Linked DNA regions of Homo sapiens: all the other regions are linked to region 2. The links come from fine-mapping of genetic effects on gene expression. A gene starts in region 2. Each other region holds a variant in brackets. All regions are shown on one strand. Distances are from middle to middle.

The links. PIP is the estimated chance that this variant, and not a neighbour inherited with it, causes the effect.
Region 1: its variant is fine-mapped to the expression of CCDC6 in blood mononuclear cells (TOPMed, PIP above 0.99).
Region 3: its variant is fine-mapped to the expression of CCDC6 in tibial artery (GTEx, PIP 0.97).

What each region holds. Positions count from the first base shown.
Region 1 is chr10:59,783,664-59,791,418 of GRCh38, reverse strand. It overlaps CCDC6 (coiled-coil domain containing 6), which reads left to right. Exons shown (of 9, transcript NM_005436.5): 9 at 1-2,672. Among named protein-coding and RNA genes, the nearest start is that of MRLN, 34 kb to the right of the region's middle. RefSeq lists an enhancer at 986-1,487. The variant G/T (reference allele first, on the strand shown) is at 1,962.
Region 2 is chr10:59,903,660-59,908,659 of GRCh38, reverse strand. It overlaps CCDC6 (coiled-coil domain containing 6), which reads left to right and starts at 2,104. Exons shown (of 9, transcript NM_005436.5): 1 at 2,104-2,538. The coding sequence starts at 2,236. RefSeq lists enhancers at 1-469, 3,162-3,391 and silencers at 1,515-1,809, 1,992-2,331, 2,362-2,641.
Region 3 is chr10:59,868,336-59,874,495 of GRCh38, reverse strand. The region is part of intron 1 of CCDC6 (coiled-coil domain containing 6); the gene reads left to right. Among named protein-coding and RNA genes, the nearest start is that of CCDC6, 35 kb to the left of the region's middle. RefSeq lists an enhancer at 1,211-1,505. The variant A/G (reference allele first, on the strand shown) is at 3,315.

The DNA of each region.
Region 1 (7,755 bases), 120 kb after region 2:
AAACCTCCATTTTTGCCTTCGAATGCATATTTAAGAGTTAACAGAATGAAAAAAAAAAGTCTTGTTGGATAATAGTGTTTGACTAGCGTTTTAAGAACTTGAGAGTAAAAGCAACAATAAGATTTTTTCACCTCTTCCTGCTTCCACCCCCAAACTGAGAACATCACTCAATTGTTTGGAAGAAACTGTAGGTCTATATAAATTTTATTTATAATGTATGTGTAATATACATAATCATAATACAGTTCTCAGATGCAGGGAAGAAGTTTGGCATTTAATCATTGAGGCTTTAGGTTTTTGATGTGATCAGACTGGGCCATGTCAAACCCGGAATTTTCACCAACAGTTCACTCACCCTCCTGGTACATTGCCATTCCAAGGAATTCTGAGAGTAGGCAAACAAATTTTGCCTTCATGGTACAGTTCTCAGTTTTTCTTATAGGAGAAATATGGTATATGTTTATAAGAATCTTTTATGAGATTATAGATTTCAATGCTGTGGATAGTGTCTTGCACCCAAACAAGAAAGTCCATAATGGAATGATCTTCCCTCAGCTTCCTATCGATTTAGTTACCTCTTGAAAGCACAAAAATTAAAACATTGCCATATGTTGAATTTTTAAAAAGCACTTGGAGTGAGCGAACATTTCCTGATAAATGCCTTTTAGAGATAGGTTCTTGATATTCAGACATCTGCAGAAATGTTCTGGTTCCCAAAGTCATTTCACTTCGAAATAAAACACAGCTCCTTCAAACAGCACTTTTTCCACATAAATCTAGTTGCCTCTCCCTGTGGACATTCAGAACTGATAGAACAAACACTACTCTTTTGAATTTGATGGTTCGTGTCCTTTAAAGTGTTTGAGGACCTATGCAGAGCCTGTAACACTTGGGTAGTACCTGCTAGGACAATTTCTTGGCAATTGTCTTACTACTAGGGATCAGTAAGATTTAGATTCTGAGCCCATAATGGCAACAGCCCCCTCACCTATGGGAAGCTGACTTCCCTCAGTCGGGCACTTCTCATGGGGGCTGAACATGGTTCCTGCCATTCTGTTACCCACTCTCCCAGGTGAGCCCTGGATTGGCTCCCAGAAGGCCTTTGTAAAATCAGTAGCCGTCCTGCAGGCAGGTGGGAGCAACAGGGGCTTCAGTAGCTTCATTTTCCTGTCTTGCAGACAGAGACCCTTGGCTACCACTGTGCTGCTAATAGGATAAGTACTCTGTTGCCAGATTACCATGCCTTTTATACAAAACCAAATTAACTTACCTAATACCTGACACCTCTTTGGGCTCTGAACTGCTTTCTCTCATCAAGCATGCTAGCACTCTAGACAGAATTCTAGAAATTTGGCAGATAGTGGAAGCCTTTAATTGAACTTACTCCTTCGTTGACTGAAAGGAGTTTTAAATTCTGAGCTCCTGAGATACTGACTAGCAACCATGGAATGAATGTGTGACCAGAAAGTGGCTTTGACACCAAGTGCTACTGTCCCTTTGTAATTGGCTTCTAACAGAATTCAACCAGAAATAATTGATAATGTGAATTTTTGTTAATTGTTCACTTGTAGGAAAATAGAACATGTATCACCCTTTGTTAGGTAGACATGAACTTTTCCTGCACAAAGCCTTGCTTTTAGAGAATGCCCAATAAGGCAAGAAAAAGCATAGTAACTTGTGCTTTGAGAGCTCAATATTTGTATCTTATCAGTACAGAAGAAATATTTCTGTGTAACTTGATCTTCTGTCTAGTACTTGTCTTATAGGTAACCAACACTGAAAACTTTGTAGTGATGACTACCAAAGAAATACATAGTAAAACAACCTTTTATTTCCAAATTGTTAAAGAGCCAGCCATTGATGCTGCTACATGAGTTCCATGCTCAAGAGCCATTGTAAGAGATTAAGGGGTTTCTAGGTTTTTGGTGATTTTTTGTTTGTTTTTTTCTTTGTTTTTTAGG[G/T]TTTTTTTTTCTTCTTTAATTTTTTGATTAAAACATACACACAGCTGTTAGCATAAAGTCGTGGGGGGCATTTTCTGGAATGCTCAGCAGTTCTGATTAACTGCCAAGCCCAGGTTGCCTCTCATGAGGCAACTGAAAAAATCCTGTGTCTTGATAGCATGGGTGCTGTGTGTGTGCATGTGTGTGTCTGCATTCATGCCTTAACTCGGGTTACTGCACAACTTTAGTTCTTGACTTAGTCTGCACCGTCATCTAGATTGTATTGTACATCTCGGTCTGAACTTCATCCTGGCAAAAACAAAGTTGCAGGCACAACAGTTTAAGAATGCATTCCTCCAGAAGAGTATCTGGTCAGGTTGACCCCTGAGCCTTCTTTGGACTTGATTTGGAACTTAGCCTGGAAAGCGAAAGTGGACTGTCCAACAGAAAGATGTCAACAAGGAAAAGAGGAGAGCCAAGCGCTAGCATGCCTTTTGCCTCTGCATATCTGTGCACACTGTATGTTGTTCATGATAGCTTGTCTACAACTTGACTAGGTTGGAGTTCTGGTAATAGTGGCAATCTTGACATTCTTGGTCAGAGTTTAGAGAGATGTAAGACTTTCAATTAATGTCTTATTTACTCCTTTATGTTGATTAGTCTTTGATACATGTGCTGAATCAGAAACCTAAATAAAGATAATTTTTTAAAATGTACCTCTTGAGCCTTAAACCCTATCTTTTTTCATTTCGGTTTTTGGGAATAAAACATTGTTTCTCTGTTGCTTCTGACAGACATCTAACTTAAATTGTAAACTCTAAAGGCTGCCTTAGAAAGTAAATTTAAACAACTGGGTGCAGTGACACAAGCCTGTAGTCCCAGCTACTCAGGAGTCTGGGGTGGGAGGATCACTTGAGCCTTGAGAGTTCGAGGCTGTAGTGAGCTAGGATTGCGCCATTGCACTCCAGCCTGGGTGTCAAAGGAAGATCCCATCTCCAAAAAAAAATAAGGAATGATGGCACGAAAAGGGCTGGTATAGTTTTGCTTATTTGTTTTTGACGGAGTCTCACTCTGCCACCCAGGCTGGAGTGCAGTGGTGCAATCTTGGCTCACTGCAACCTCCACCTCCTGGGTTCAAGCAATTATCCTGCTTCAGCCTCCCAAGTAGCTGGGACTACAGGTATGTGCCAACACGCCAATACAAGTTAATTTTTGTATTTTTAGTAGAGACGGGGTTTTGCCACATTGACCAGGCCGGTCTCAAACTCCTGACCTCAGGTGATCCACCTGCCTCAGCCTCTTAAAGTGCTGGGATTACAGGCGTGAGCCACCATGCCTGGCTAGTTTTGTTTCTTAATCAGAGTGCTGGCTGCTTGGATGTGTTGAGGTTTTGAAAATTCATGAAACCGTACACTTAACGATTTGTGCACTGCTCTGTATTTGTGTTGTATTTCAGTTTAAAGCAGTAAACCTGAGGTTATGAAAAGGAAAACCATGCCCATTTCCAAAATGTTACATACAAATATTTATGTACAGGATTTGGATGTCACATTTGGGATGTTTCGTGAGCTTTAAAGTTTCAATCCACCTGTTTGGTGTTTTTTTTCTCTACTTTGTTGGAAGCATGGCTTTGGGATCAATTCTAGGTTTGAGTACCAATTATTTTCCTGGGATAGTTACTTAACTTTTCTGGGACTCAAGTTCCTTACCTGTAAAATAAAAATGTTATTTATGTGCCTGGCTAAAATAAGAAAATTGATGGATGGTACAGTATAGTCCTTCACACACAAAATCAGACGTGGACTAGTCTCTTCCACATCCATCCAATGAATGAGTATTTGGGGTAATGTTTTACACATGCTTGGGGGTATATGGTTTGTCAGTTGCATTTTCGTAAGCCCATAGTAGTTAGAGTCCACATTCTGTGGAAGAAATGCACAGTACTCAGTGGGATCCTCTTGGGAGTATAGTTTTCAAGAACCCATTTGTGATGCCGTCGTTTTTTTTTTTTTTTCTTTTTTTTGAGACAGAGTCTTTCTCTGTCACCCAGGCTGGAGTTCGGCTCACTGCAACCTCCCCACCTCCTGCGTTCAAACAATTCTCCTGCCTCAGCCTTCCCAGTAGCTGGGATTACAGGTGCCTGCCACCACGCCCAGCTAATTTTTTGCATTTTTAGTAGAGACGGGGTTTTGCCATCTTGGCCAGGCTGGTCTCGGACTCCTGACCTCTGGTGGTGACCCACCCACCTCGGCCTTCCAAAGTATTGGGATTACAGGCATGATGTGATGCCATCTTATGAGTGCAGACTGTTTAAATCTAGGCTGTTTTCTATATAAAAGTAAATAAACCTTCAGTGAATCTTGACTGACTCTGGCTTAAGCAGGATTCCATTTTAACTTCGTGAAAGCAATGAGTTTTTAATTTGGTTGAAATGACCAAATGACAAAACTCCTCTCTACCCGTGGCAGCTGGATTTTAGTTGTAACTTGGTGAAAATATTAGCCAAGGAATTTCCCAGGACCTCTGGATTCAAGTCTTAACCTTCGTCCTGCCTTAGCCTCAGTTTTCTACTGGTGGAGATAGCTGTTCTTATTTCAGGTCAAATTTGAAGAAAATTATTTAAACAAAGTGCTCTGAAAACAAGTAAGTAAAGATTAAGCTGCATGTGTATTTTATAAAATTTTAATATCTTTTAAAGGCTATGTGTCCACATGGTGCCTCTAAAATTGAAACGGTTGGTCTAGAACATTTTTTGTGTTTATGTAGAACTCTTAAGTAAATCTGAGAGGTCCTTGTTTTAACATGTAGGCTATTTAAATTAAAAACTTGTGGAAATGCAATTCTGTCACTAATATATAATTCAGCTCAAACTTTTAAACATTGTCTTTAGAAAAACAAGAAGTCAGTGCATGGTAAATTATGGTTTGTGTCTGATGCATATGTTGACATGAGGGATTGAATTCCTGTTCCTTAAAGTTTTCTGTCCAGTATCATCCCTGGTTTCATATTGCATTGAGTGCTATTGAGCTGAATATATTTAGATCTTTTTCCAAAGGTCTTATTTTCTGATACTCTACTGATAACTTAGTGCAACTTTCAAGATTACTAATTACCCCAAGAGGAGATCTTAGTAATTAATCTTAAATTTTTCATCTTAAAAACAAAAAAGGGAAAGTCAGACTCAGAAAAACAGATGTTTTTCTCTCAGGGAAACAATGATAGAATTAACAGACAAGGATGTGAAAACAGAGACTTATAAACGTTCTCCATGTGTTCAAGAAGACAGCGAAGTATAAGCATGGTCAGAAAAATTGAAAATAAAACCTAAGTTGATCTTTAAAGATAAAAAATACAATTTCTGAAATTTAAAACAATAAAAACTTGTTTTAAGTCTTTTGTGGATTTATGTTTGTGCTCTTTGAATGTACCTGAGAAACATTAAAAGGCACCCCTGCTGGTCGGGCACTGGCACAGTGGCTCACACCTGTAATCCCAACAATCCTTCCAGCCAAGGCAGGAGGATTGCTTGAAGCCAGGAGTTTGAGACCAGCCTGATCAACATAGTGAGACCCCCATCTCTACCAAAAATTAAAAATTAGCCAGGCATGGTGGTGCATGCCTGTTTTTCTAGCTACTCAGGAGGCTGAGGTGGGAGGATTGCCTGAGCCCAGGAGTTTTAGGCTGCAGTGAACTATGATCATGCCACTGCATTCCAGCCTGGGGAACAGAGTGAGACCCTGTCTCTAAAGAAAAGTTGGGCAATGATAGACTGGATTAAGAAAGTGTGTCACATATACACCATGGAATACTATGCAGCCATAAAAAATGATGAGTTCATGTCCTTTGTAGGAACATGCATGAAGCTGGAAACCATCATTCTCAGCAAACTATCGCAAGGACAAAAAACCAAACACCGCATGTTCTCACTCATAGGTGGGAATTGAACAATGAGAACACATGGACACAGGAAGGGGAACATCACACACCGGGGCCTGTTGTGGGGTGGGGGGAAGGGGGAGGGATAGCATTAGGAGATATACCTAATGTTAAATGATGAGTTAATGGGTGCAGCACACCAACATGGCACATGTATACACACGTAACTAGCCTGCACATTGTGCACATGTACCCTAAAACTTAAAGTATAATAAAAAAATTGGGGTTGTGGTGGGGCAGAGAACTGTTTAAATTCGAGTTAAGCCTGTGATCTACTTTTCTTTCACCAGGGGAGCTTTGCCTGTGTTCTGGTAGACCACTATTGGGAAATTATTAATCCTGGGGACTTACTACCCAAATTCATCACATTAGTGTTGGGCATGAAGCCTCAAGGCTTAAGGTAGCCAGGTGCTGTAGAAAGAGTCCTGTGAGTTCAAGTCTGGTCTAAGTGCAATTTTTAAGCTTCTATTTCCTCATCTATAAAAGAGGAATGAAAATGGTGTCTTTAGGATCAAATGAACATATTAGTGTTAAAACTTTAGAGACTATAAGGTTCTTTTTTTGTATTGTAACTTCACTATTTCCAATATCATTTCATTCATTCTACAAATACTCTTTTTTTTTTTATTATACTTTAAGTTTTAGGGTACATGTGCACAGTGTGCAGGTTAGTTACATATGTATACATGTGCCATGCTGGTGCGCTGCACCCACTAACTCGTCATCTAGCATTAGGTATATCTCCGAATGCTATCCCTCCCCCCTCCCCCCACCCCACTACAGTCCCCAGAGTGTGATATTCCCCTTCCTGTGTCCATGTGATCTCATTGTTCAATTCCTACCTGTGAGTGAGAATATGCGGTGTTTGGTTTTTTGTTCTTGCGATTGTTTACTGAGAATGATGATTTCCAATTTCATCCATGTCCCTACAAAGGACATGAACTCATCATTTTTTATGGCTGCATAGTATTCCATGGTGTATATGTGCCACATTTTCTTAATCCAGTCTATCATTGTTGGACATTTGGGTTGGTTCCAAGTCTTTGCTATTGTGAATAATGCCGCAATAAATATACGTGTGCATGTGTCTTTATAGCAGCGTGATTTATAGTCCTTTGGGTATATACCCAGTAATGGGATGGCTGGGTCAAATGGTATCAAGTGGCCTTCATCCCTGGGAGGCAAGGCGGGTTCAATATATGCAAATCAATAAATGTAATCCAGCATATAAACAGAGCCAAAGACAAAAACCACATGATTATCTCAATAGATGCAGAAGAGGCCTTTGACAAAATTCAACAACTCTTCATCGTAAAAACTCTCAATAAATTAGGTATTGATGGGACGTGTTTCAAAATAATAAGAGCTAGCTATGACAAACCCACAGCCAATATCATACTGAATGGGCAAAAACTGGAAGCATTCCCTTTGAAAACTGGCACAAGACAGGGATGCCCTCTCTCACCACTCCTATTCAACATAGTGTTGGAAGTTCTGGCCAGGGCAATTAGGCAGGAGAAGGAAATAAAGGGTATTCAATTAGGAAAAGAGGAAGTCAAATTGTCCCTGTTTGCAGACGACATGATTGTATATCTAGAAAACCCTATTGTCTCAGCCCAAAATCTCCTTAAGCTGATAAGCAACTTCAGCAAAGTCTCAGGATACAAAATCAATGTACAAAAATCACAAGCATTATTATACACCAACAACAGACAAACAGAGAGCCAAATCATGAGTGAACTCCCATTCACAATTGCTTCAAAGAGAATAAAATACCTAGGAATCCAACTTACAAGGGATGTGAAGGACCTCTTCAAGGACAACTACAAACCACTGCTCAAGGAAATAAAAGAGGATACAAACAAATGGAAGAACATTC
Region 2 (5,000 bases):
AAAACCAGGCGCTTCAAACTCCACCCCTCTGCTGACTTGAAGCAGTGTGAGTCCGCCTTTCCAAGGCGGTTAGTTTTGTGGTGACGCTAAGAGAGAGTTAATTTGCCCCCTGCTCTGCCTGGAAGGAATGTTCCTGTTGCAATAAGCTCTAAAAGTGGAAGCTTTAAGATAATATGGAATAGGGAGCAATAGAAACTTGTGAGGTATGGCAGCCAGACCTACTCTTAAGATTCGATCACAGTGCTGAATAAAGGGGAAAGAATGTTGTTAAATCTGTTTCCCCCTGTGGTGCTTCTCCCTGCTAGCTTTACTCTTCCATTTCAACCCTCAAGTGAGCTTTCCAGAATCCGTTTCCAATTTAACTCATTGTCTCATGTACTAGATCCCAAAAAAGTGAGAGAACTAAGTTTCAGTGCAAATTAAACTGGATCACTTGTAACAGAATGATTTAGATTGCCTATATGTTTCTCAAGAGCAAAGCCAAGCATTTCCTCCCTCCTGCTATACAAACAGTGACAGAGTTCAGAAGCCCTCCAGCACTAAGCTAAAAAATACCTGGGAGAAACTGGGGTTTAGTTGCTGTTGGCATTTAAGCTGTTTGCTAAAAGCAGCCATCTTGGTGAAAGATGATGTCATTTGGAACACTTGGTGTTTTCGAGTTTATTCTGAGGTGCCAGTTTCCAAGAGCCATTGAATCACCGTTTAATCATGAGATCAAATTTAGGTTTAAAGATAATGAGGGAGTGGGAATAAGAATCATTCTTCTTTCTTCCTAACACTTTAGAAATCTTTCAGAAAGTTCAACCCAACAGAAAAAAAAATTACACTTTTTTTTCTATTTTCTATTACCATGTGTTTGTTGTAATGTTAACTAAGCGTGGGTAATAAAACTAGTCTGGTCAGTTTCACTTTCCAATTTTTATACATAAGTGAAAGCTGTTTTGTGTCAACAGGGCAAAGTGTTTAGAATCATCTCACCTGCTGGGCCAATTTCCTGCAAGCCTTTCTTTGGGAAGAGGAAGGGGGAATAAAAGTTTTTGATTTTTAATTTCTTAAACTGCAAAGCTAGAACCATGAATTAGACCGCATTACAGTAATTACTGTTTTATTTTTACATGCTAAAGTTTTCTAGGAGTGAGCAAGAGGATAGCAAAGACGGGTGATGTTGCACTCCCACTCAATCATTACTATTTGTATAGCATAATGTTATGTCCGCAGTTACTTTGGAAAATTGGCACTTAAAGAGGTGTTTCAATCTTCTACTAAAAGTGTTTCGCCTTCCTTTTTTTTTTTCTTCATTAGGTAAATGTTACTGTCTTAATCCTACTACGAGACATGTGCTGGAAATGTTTGCAAAATGCAAAGAGAAAAAGAAAAAAACAGTTGCACCTTGTTTAAACAATTGAGCGCAGTGTGGTTTATGAGGTTATTAAAGGAGATGTGTGTCTCTCCTGCAAATTCTTACTTAACAAGGTTAACCTGTGGCTGCTGTTGTTTCATCCTCCTCGGCCTCTTGTAGAGGAACTTTGTTCTCTTAGGTTTATCCAAGCCTTCCTAGTCAAAAACACCTTGCTTTTGAGAATATAAAACTGCGTGTATGTGTGAAACAGATAGAGGGAGACACGCGCACACACAGTCGGCGGAAGATGGGGCCACAACACGGTAGAGGATGGGTGCCGGAGCCCGGCTGACCTTTCCACGTGTCCCCGGCACCTGCGAGGCTGGTGGGGCATCAGGTTTCCTTTTTCTCGGGGCGGGCGCGAGCCCGGAAGAGGCTGGGCGGCCGTGGGCTTAGATCAGGGGGCTCGGAGGCCCTCCCTTGGAACACGTGTGGCTGGCGAGCTGGTGGTGCGGGGGCAGTCCTTGGCTTTCCCGCACCCGCAGTGCCTGCGCGTTCCCAGCCCGCCCGTGGTCACCAGACGGCGGCGGGCGGGTCCCGGAGCTTTCAGCCAGCTTTGCTGGGCGGCCTAGGGAGCGCGCCCAGCCCGGCTGGAGCGAGCCCCAGTGCAATACTGCCCAAGCCCGGGCGGGGTCTCTGTTCTCTGGCAGAGGAGGTCCCTTGGCAGCGGGAAGCGCCCTCTCTTTCTCTCGCCGCCGCTCCGAGTCTGCGCCCTGGTGCCAGGCGCTCAGCTCGGCGCTCCCCTGTGCTCGCCCGGCGCCCACTCATTCGCAGCCCGGCCTTCGTCGCCGCCGCCTCCCTGCTGCTCCTCCTCCTTTCCCCAGCCCGCCGCGGCCATGGCGGACAGCGCCAGCGAGAGCGACACGGACGGGGCGGGGGGCAACAGCAGCAGCTCGGCCGCCATGCAGTCGTCCTGCTCGTCGACCTCGGGCGGCGGCGGTGGCGGCGGGGGAGGCGGCGGCGGTGGGAAGTCGGGGGGCATTGTCATCTCGCCGTTCCGCCTGGAGGAGCTCACCAACCGCCTGGCCTCGCTGCAGCAAGAGAACAAGGTGCTGAAGATAGAGCTGGAGACCTACAAACTGAAGTGCAAGGCACTGCAGGAGGAGAACCGCGACCTGCGCAAAGCCAGCGTGACCATCGTGAGTGCCCCCCGGGGACGCGCCGCAGCGCCGACCTCCGCCCGCCCCGGGAGGGGCTGCACCCGAATCCAGCCACCCCCCAAGTCTTCCCCAGATTCCCGGGGACCCTCTGAGAGCACACTCCCTGCGGGGACCTGCTGGCTTCCGGGAGGAGAGGGAGGTATCCCTTCGGGGCCACGCGGGTCTGTCCTCCTCGGGGGTCTGAGGACCCTTGCGCGGTGCGGGGGAAGGCTACTGTGGCAACCATTCATGGTCCCTTTTAGCCTCTGGAGAGGAGGCCCCTCCGGGGCTGGGCTGGAGGCTGGCGGCGTGGCTGGGGGGCGGGGTAGGACTTTTTTCAGCCCTAGCATGTTTGAGGGGTGCGTCCAGAATCTGGGGAACCCCAGTCCTGGAAGAGGGAGGAAGCTGGGATCTCTTACTGGGTCCTGGCTCGGAGTGTGGGGGTTCGCAGCTGGACTGGGCACTAAGCTGGCATCTGGACTGCGCTAGCTGGATCGCCCGGGGAGGGGGCGGGAGAGAGTGGCCGGGAATCCGGGAAGTGGAGTTTTCTGGCCGGGATCGAGAGGGAAGGGCGGGTACGGCGCTAATGCTCCCACCTCTGTTGGAAGCTCTTTGCTTTGGGTTGGGAGGGTGGACGGTTTACAGCGAGGAGAGTGCAGCATCCACGCCTGGACAGGGCTGGGGCCGAAACCAGGGGAAGGGTAGTGACTGTGACTCCCTGGCTGAGCCAGAGGTACGTGTGTTTGCTTCATTCGTGGAGTGGTTAGAAGTATCTTGCTTCTGAGTCTAGATACTGGAGAACAGGCCATCTGTTCTGTTTCTACCTGTCCCCTGGAGGCTGCCCAGAAACGGGTAAGCTTGGGTCTGTAGGTCTCTCTCCTGGTGTGGCAGGCGTTTAGAAAGGCCCCTATAGCAGTGATGAGGCGAAACGTAACTAGAAAAAGTACACTGTGTACTCTCACCTATCATCCCTGCCAGCTCACCACATCATTAACATGAAGGATCCCCACACAGACAACTGTATTCAAATCAAAAGTTCCCCAGCCAGAAGCAGAGAAGATGATGTCAAGAAATCAAGGGGGATAAATGGCCATAGCTGCTGCAAAATAGCGGATTAGGCTGAACTTTGAAATGAAGAAAAAGGGATGAATTTGGGGATAGAGGGTCACACCTTGGAAATGGAGCAAGTTTAGGATGCCCCTTGTGCCAGGAAATGCCTTCGGTGGAGGAGGCTGTGTATATGTGTGCGCACGCGTGTGTACACCCCCAGTGCTGGCTCATACATGAGAACTAGATGGCATTCTTAATTTGTGTAGAAAGCAAGTTGCAAGTTAAGTGTGATCAGTAGCCTAAATAGCAGTTGATTGTAAAAAGAAACTTTTCATGCTCAAATCCAATTTTGGAGAATGGAATTGGAGCAACTTTCATGTGAGATGGTAAAGTTCTTGAAGTGCCCTTTTGGTAGGAAGGTGGGGGGCGGGGAATTTGCAGAGGCAGCCACTTCCAAGCCTCCTATGCAGCTTTCTTCGCTGACAGAGATGTCTTTGCTGAGTGGGGGTTAAGAAGAGAGGGAAGTTGTTGGAGGCAGTTTAAGGTTTGAGTTAGTAAATGAGAGGGTTAGTCTCTTGGAGACTGTGAGCCATGGAAAGTAGTAAGACTTGCATGAAGCAAAATAGCCTTTTGCATGCAGTGGGCAATTCAGGCTGGTTTTGTTTGGGAGGGAGGAATGAGGGATGCAGAGACTATGAAAGGGTTATCTGTTTGACACTTAGACCGTATTATAACTAGGTTTGTAAATTGTGCTTAAACATGTTGGCTTTGCAGGAACAAATGTGTTCATTCCCGGTGTTTAAGATCAGAGGCCTTCTGAGTACTTGGCTAGAAGAGCGTATAAGGTGGTGGCTTGCTTTCTTAGCACTTACCCTTAACTACACTGACATCCAACCGAATATACTTTGTGAAATGTCGTGTGGTGTTAATGAGTAAAGTTAACATTGTTTTAGATGACACTGCACAAGTACCAGAAGCCTCTCAGTTCTTCTTTAATTTCTGACTAATATATTCAGGGAGACACATAAAAAAGTGCTTGTGGTTCGCCTGGTTTCCTAATACTTGGCAGTTGTTACTAAGGAGCTGAATGATAAATGCAGAAAACAGATTCCTTCAAGATTTTGCAGGTTTTGTTAACTGACCTAGGATCCAGATTCTGTGGTGGTACGTTTGACCTCTCAGGTATGTAATGCGGGAGGAGAAATTTATGTGACTCCATGAAATGGGCCTGTGAATGTAGAGTCCATTGAACAACACTTAAGTAGTTTATGTCAAGGTTAAGCTGTACAATCCCTGACATCGCTGACTTAAGCATTACCCTTGCTAGTGGCAGGCTAGGAAGTTTCTGATAATTAAGTGAAGGCCTTGTTAGATTTTTCACTATTTTAGTTAATTTGAAGGGAAGATGGTAC
Region 3 (6,160 bases), 35 kb after region 2:
GTTAGTGAATTGGTTGTTTGCATTGGTATGGATGGCATTTCTGTGAATATCTTTGTATATTGATCTCTGTATATCTTTGGTTAATCCATGAACCACCTTTCTGTAAACGGAGGATTTCAATGTGATAATTTTAATATGTTTGATAAAAATGATAAAATTACAGAAACTCTAGTCTTGGTTGGATAGGAGAACAAAAGGCAAGTTTAGTGCCAAAGAAAACATTTTAGAACTGGGAGAAGATCAATTTGTGCCTTTGTTACATTCCTGTTAGAGTGTAAGGTCCTGTCTCATTATAGTTTTATTATATTCCCTGTGCCTTCTGGCATATGGAATCTATGTAGGGGTGTGTGCGTGTGTGTGTGTGTGTGTGTGTGTGTTTGCTAGGTAAATGTGTAAGGAAATGAATGTCTACGCTTCGGACATGCTTCACCATTCTTTCACTTCGTTTTCTTTCAGTATTAGATGTCATAGATCTTCACTGACCATGGTTGATTTTGCAGCATTTGGGATTTTGACAGCTGTATTGTGTCTAAATGTGCTACTGCCTCAACATCATAGGAATGGGGAACATTCATTCTCATATAGAAGATTTAAGATGTACTTGGATTGTTTTAACTATTCTGTTTTGATAATTTTAAAAGCTACATATGTGTTCTCTGTCCTTCTTTTTTTTTAAAAATTAGCAGTCTATTACAAAATCATCACAAATTTAGGTAAATACCATTGTCAGAAACCAAGATTGAAAAACCTGCATTTACTTTGAAATATTCAGAATAAAGTGGCATATTAAAATACTAAATATTAAAATATAGCTCCACAGTCTCTTATCCCATGAGGCCAGATATGTTTTAGAATTTAGGTTTTTTTGGTGGTGGGAGTTGGGTCTGTTTGTTTCCCAAGGCTGTTGTAACAATGTTTCACAGACTGAGTGGCATAAAACAATAGAAATTAATTTTCTCACAGTTCTGGAGGGGCCAGAAGTCCAAAATCAAGGTGTTGGTAAGGGTTGTTCTCCCTTGGAAACCTCTGGCCGGGGAAGATCCTTCTGTGATTCTTCTAGTTTCTAGTATCTCCAGGCGTTCCTTGGCTTGCAGCTGCAGCACTTCAGTTCCTGCCTCTGAAGTCATGTGGTCATCTTCTCCTTGTATGTTTCTGTCTGTATTTTCCCTTCTTATAAGGACAGCAGTCGTATTGGATTGGGGCCCACTCCAGTGATCTCATCTTAGCTTGATTACATCTGCAAAGAACCTATTTCCAAATAAGGTCACATTCACAAGTATGTGGGGTTAGGAATTGAACATATCTTTTTCAAGGACACAGTCCATCCCATAAAAGGGAGTGGAGCTATGGAAAGGTACTGAGCACCTACCACGTATACTGTAGCACCGCCAGAGGATTGAAACAGCAGACACATCAAACCACCTCAGCAAAACATGTGAACAGGCATGCTAAGTTTGATGATAAAGCTGCAAAGAGCCTCATGTCAATTCAGATCAGGCTTGCCACCAAGTGAACGCAGTTGTTTGGTTGCTTGCCAAATGTAGCTTTCGGTTTTCAGTCTTCTGGGTTTTGGAATTGTGTTTAAAGGATCGAGGACCTGTGCTAGATTTTCACCTTAATTCCTAATGACAGCTTAGCAATATTTCTTAGAAGTTCTAGCAGGGAAGAGTTACTGCTTATGCACTTTCTAATGTTGTTACCTTCCCCCACCCCCCCATCTGGAAAGTTATCCTCTTTGACTGGATGCAGCCCCAGGTATCAAGGTGGTGAGATGTAGTTTGACCATGAAATCCTTGTGTCCAACTAGAATAGAAACTTGATGCTGAAAGTTAACCCCTTGCTAGAGGTTAAACCTTCCGTCCCTCTTTACTCACTGAAAACTAGAAAATGTTCATACATCAATAACCTCCAACTCACAAAGCCAGCCTTATAGTTAAAGCAGTGTGTCTTTTACTTCTTCGGAGGAATTGGCTTCCATAGAAAGTCAGTTCAGAAGCCCAACCCCTGGACACCTTCGCACGAGCAAGGAGACAAGGAACAGGATGTAAATTGGCTACCATTTTCTTACCTGCAACAGCACAGGAAACAGACACAGCTTTGTAGCTGCAAATGTAGGCAGCTGTTTGCTTAAGTCTCCGTATCTTAACTGAATACTGATACCCAAGGTTGGGGAATCTGCTGGAAGAAACATCCAGCTAGCACAGCCTCAGACTGTTCAAGCATGTTCATTGTAACGATTCTTCAAAGGGCAGAAGCATTGGAAACAACTGGAAGGAATGTCAGGCAGTAGAGAGATGGTTTTGGCACATCAGTGAGATAGGTTGTTTACAACATCAAAAATTATTGGAGGAACATTTAATCATAGAGATAGTTAAAATCTAGTAAGTGGAGTGAGGATACAGTGTGCGTGTAATGTGAACCAATTTTGTAAAATGTGTAAGCACAGAGGTTACAAGGGATGGATAACATTAGCAGTGCTTTTAATAATTGGCTCCTTATTTTCTTTATACTTGAGAATTTTCTAGTTTCCTGTAATCCATTTCCCTTCTTCCTCCCTTTAAGTCCCTTGTTTGAGGAGCCTTTTACTTTTGGAGGAGAACTTGTATCCTTATATTTAATCAGAGTGCTATTTTTTTTTCTTTTGCCAATTAGCAACTGAATTTGGGGAATACTTAGTGGGAATTTTTGTTCAAAGCAGCGTGGATCCCCTGCCCCCTCACAAGGCAGGATGTGTGCTGTGCCATAAAGGACTTCATATTATCTCCCATTTTACAGATGGGGAAATGTAGGCAGGCTGAAGAAAGAAAGTAGCTTGCCAAGGTTAATTAAGAGTTAACAGCAAAACCAGGACGAGGGCTAAGGTCTCCTGATTAGCTAGCGCTGTATCTTTTTATCTGCTCCAGGCTCTCCAACCAAACTGTTCAATGGAACCTTGGGGCCCCATCCCTCAGAGCTGACCCAGTTTGTCAGGGCAAGGGTCTGGGCATCAGTAGTGCATCAACTTTTTTTTTTTTTTTTTTTTTTTTTAATGAGTATTAGGTGATGCCAGTGAAATCTTGATGTTGAGCTTTGGGAATCCATTGCCTACAAAGCAGTCCCTCCGAGATTTGTGTGTACGTGTATACACATGTAAACACAAGGTGAATGTTTATTTTTACGTACTTGAGTGCTTCGTATATACAAGGCGGTGTTCTTAGCTCTGCGAATGTGGTGTGACAGATTAGCCTCTTTAACAACTCCAGAGGCACTGTTAACATTTCTTAGACACAGTTCTATTAATTTTTAAAATATTTACAATTATATACATAATACTT[A/G]TACATGTTTATATAATATAAACTCTCCTCATGTATAATACATGAAAGCATTTTATTTATATATTCTTGTTAAATAAAACTTCACTCATGGGATCATAATGTGCATAGTCTTTAGCATTTTGCCTCTCCAATTTACTGTATCTCAGGCGAGCTTTTCATTTCTAAACATAGATCTGACTGACTCTCCTCTCATACTGATGAGTTTTCATTTCAGGAATTGTGTATGGCAGAGGCTAAACTGCTGATGGGGAGACCCCCAAATACAGCTGCTCAGTTCATGGTGCTCTCATTTAATAGTCCCGGGCTGGTGGTTGACTCCTCCATGAGGTTGTTCACTGGGGTCTTCCTATTTCATAGCTGTACCATCTTGCGGGATGTTAGCCTTGCCATTGTGGTGGGACCTGCCTTATAACTTCTAGTTCGATTCCAGCCTGTGAAAAGTGGGAAGCAGCATGGATAACTGCTTCTTTTTAAAAGCTATGACTCCAAAGTTGCATACCACTTCCATCCATCTCCTGTTTGTCAGAAATTAGCCCCATAGCCCCACCTACCTGTCCAGGAGTCTGGGATATGTAATCTAGCTGGGTGGTCCTCTAGATTGTAGGAGAGTCCTCTTTTCAAAAAGAGGATGAAGAAAGTTAATGCTGGGGGTCACTCACGTACCATCCACTGCAGCTCTATTCATGATCCAACAGTGGTGACAGGATGGAAGAGTTAGAGCTACCAAGTATAGTGCTGTGTTTTGGTATCAGTGGCATCTGTGCAAGTGGATGTGGGGGTGTGAAAAGTGGTGATGGATCTGGAACTACTAGACTCTGAGCTCCTCCAAGAGCAGTGATAGTACCTTATTTTTTCTGTCATGAGAACTTGACTCAGTGCTTTGAACTTCAGTTAACCAGCAGAGGCGGGTGGGGAGAAAAGGTTGAGTTTAAGAGAAGCCTTTTTCCACGTCTCAATGAGTTGCCCATATGTTAACCAGTATCGGAGTACTTGCCATATGCCAGGCACAATTGTAGGTTCTGAAGTCACCAGTGGCCCTGATTGTGCTCATAAGCCTACATTCTGGTGGGGGTGACAAACAGTAAAAAGATATCTCTGTGGCAGTAGGCAAGATACATCCTCGATGGAAAGAAGGTAGTGTAATGGGGTGGTGAATGGTGGTGAGGGCTCTTTAGGTTTGATGGCTGAGACAGCCTCTTCAGGGGGATCTGAGATGACAGGTAGCCAGCCTGCTATGGGGCAGAGAATCTAGCTAGTACCTGGATACCACAACAGGGATCATGAGTGTGGCATGTGTGGGAACAGATATGCTGGAGTGGCTGGAGTGTCGTGGGTGTCGGGGCAAGAGGCAGGCAGAGGCTGGACCACGGGAGGGCCGGTAGATGATCCAGGGCAAGGAATCACTATTTCTTAGTGTGATGGGAAGCCTTTGGAGGGTTTGAGCAGGGTAACAAAGTGGTCAGTTTTCCATCTCTAAAACTGTGGGTGTGCAGAATGAGCACGGGTTGTATGAGCACAAGAGTGGAAGGATCAGCAGGGCCAGGTAGGCGGCTGTTGTAAGCCTGATGAGGAATGATAGTGGCTGGAGCAAAGGCAATGAGAAGGCCAGAAAGACATTCAAGATTTATTTCCATTAGAAACAGGACTTTCTGATGGGCTAAATAGGCACAAGGGTAGTGAGGGAAAGAAAACCAAGGCTTACTTCTTGCTGGTTTTTTTGTTTGTTTGTTTTTGTTTCTGTTTTTTTTTTTTCTTTTTTCTGTTTTTTTTTTTTTTTTTTTTTTTTTTTTTTGCCTGAGCAAGTCCATGTCTCACTGCTTAGGACAGAGGGGAAGGAATCCAGAGAGGTGTTTGGGGTCGATTATGTTGGAGGTGCCTATATGCTGTCCAGGTGGTGACGACAGGTTGGCAGTTGGTTAAGTCTGGAGATCTGAGGGAGGCTTTTCTGGCTAAGTGCTCTCATGTCCCTCTTAGTAAAGTTGCACTTAACTGGAAGACTTTGGGCTATAGTTTATAGCACTACACTGAGATCATTAGGGCGTGGTAGGGATGAAGTGTGCTCTTTCCTATGGCTCCCATTGGCTTTTGAAAGACAGGTTAAAGGCATTCTTTTTAGATATAGGGTGTGTCAGGAGTCCCCAGGACCACCCTCAGGTTTGGTGATTTGCTAGAAAGACTCAGGACTCAGTATCTAGTAATACTCATGGCTAAGATGTATTAGAACAAAAGGCCGCAAAGCAAAATTGGCATAAGAAAGAGGTGCATGGGACAAAGTCCAGAGGAAACCAAGCATAGCTTCCAAGAGTCCTCTCCCAGTAGAGTCACACAGGATGTGCTTAATTCCCCCAATGTGGCATTGTAACCACACGTGTGAAGTGTCATCTACCAGGGAAGCTCATTGGAGCCGAGGGTTTTTACTGGGGGCTGGCTCTGCTTAGCATGTACCAAAGTTCCAGAATCTCAAAGGAAAGCAGGTGTTCATCATAAACCATATTGTTTGTAACGCTTAGGCACAGTGAGCCATGAAAGAGAAGGGGAGGAAAGCGTGAAGAATAAAGTTAAATTAGAGTTGTCATGCCAAACCCCTATCAACCTCAGTAGGGAGGGCACCAGGTTCAAAAGGCCAAATAAGAGACCTGGAGCCAGCAAATGAGATGTGGGGTTTTATTAGAGGCTTTCATCCAGGGAAGAGTGTCCAGTGGCAGTGAGCTGAATAGAAGAACCACCTTAATCACAGGAACGGTCTAGTGGCGGCGGGCTGGACAACGTATCTGCATGGCCCAGTGGTGGTGGGCTGGGCAGGAAAATCACACGGTCCAGTGGTGGTGGGCTTGGCAGGAAAACAG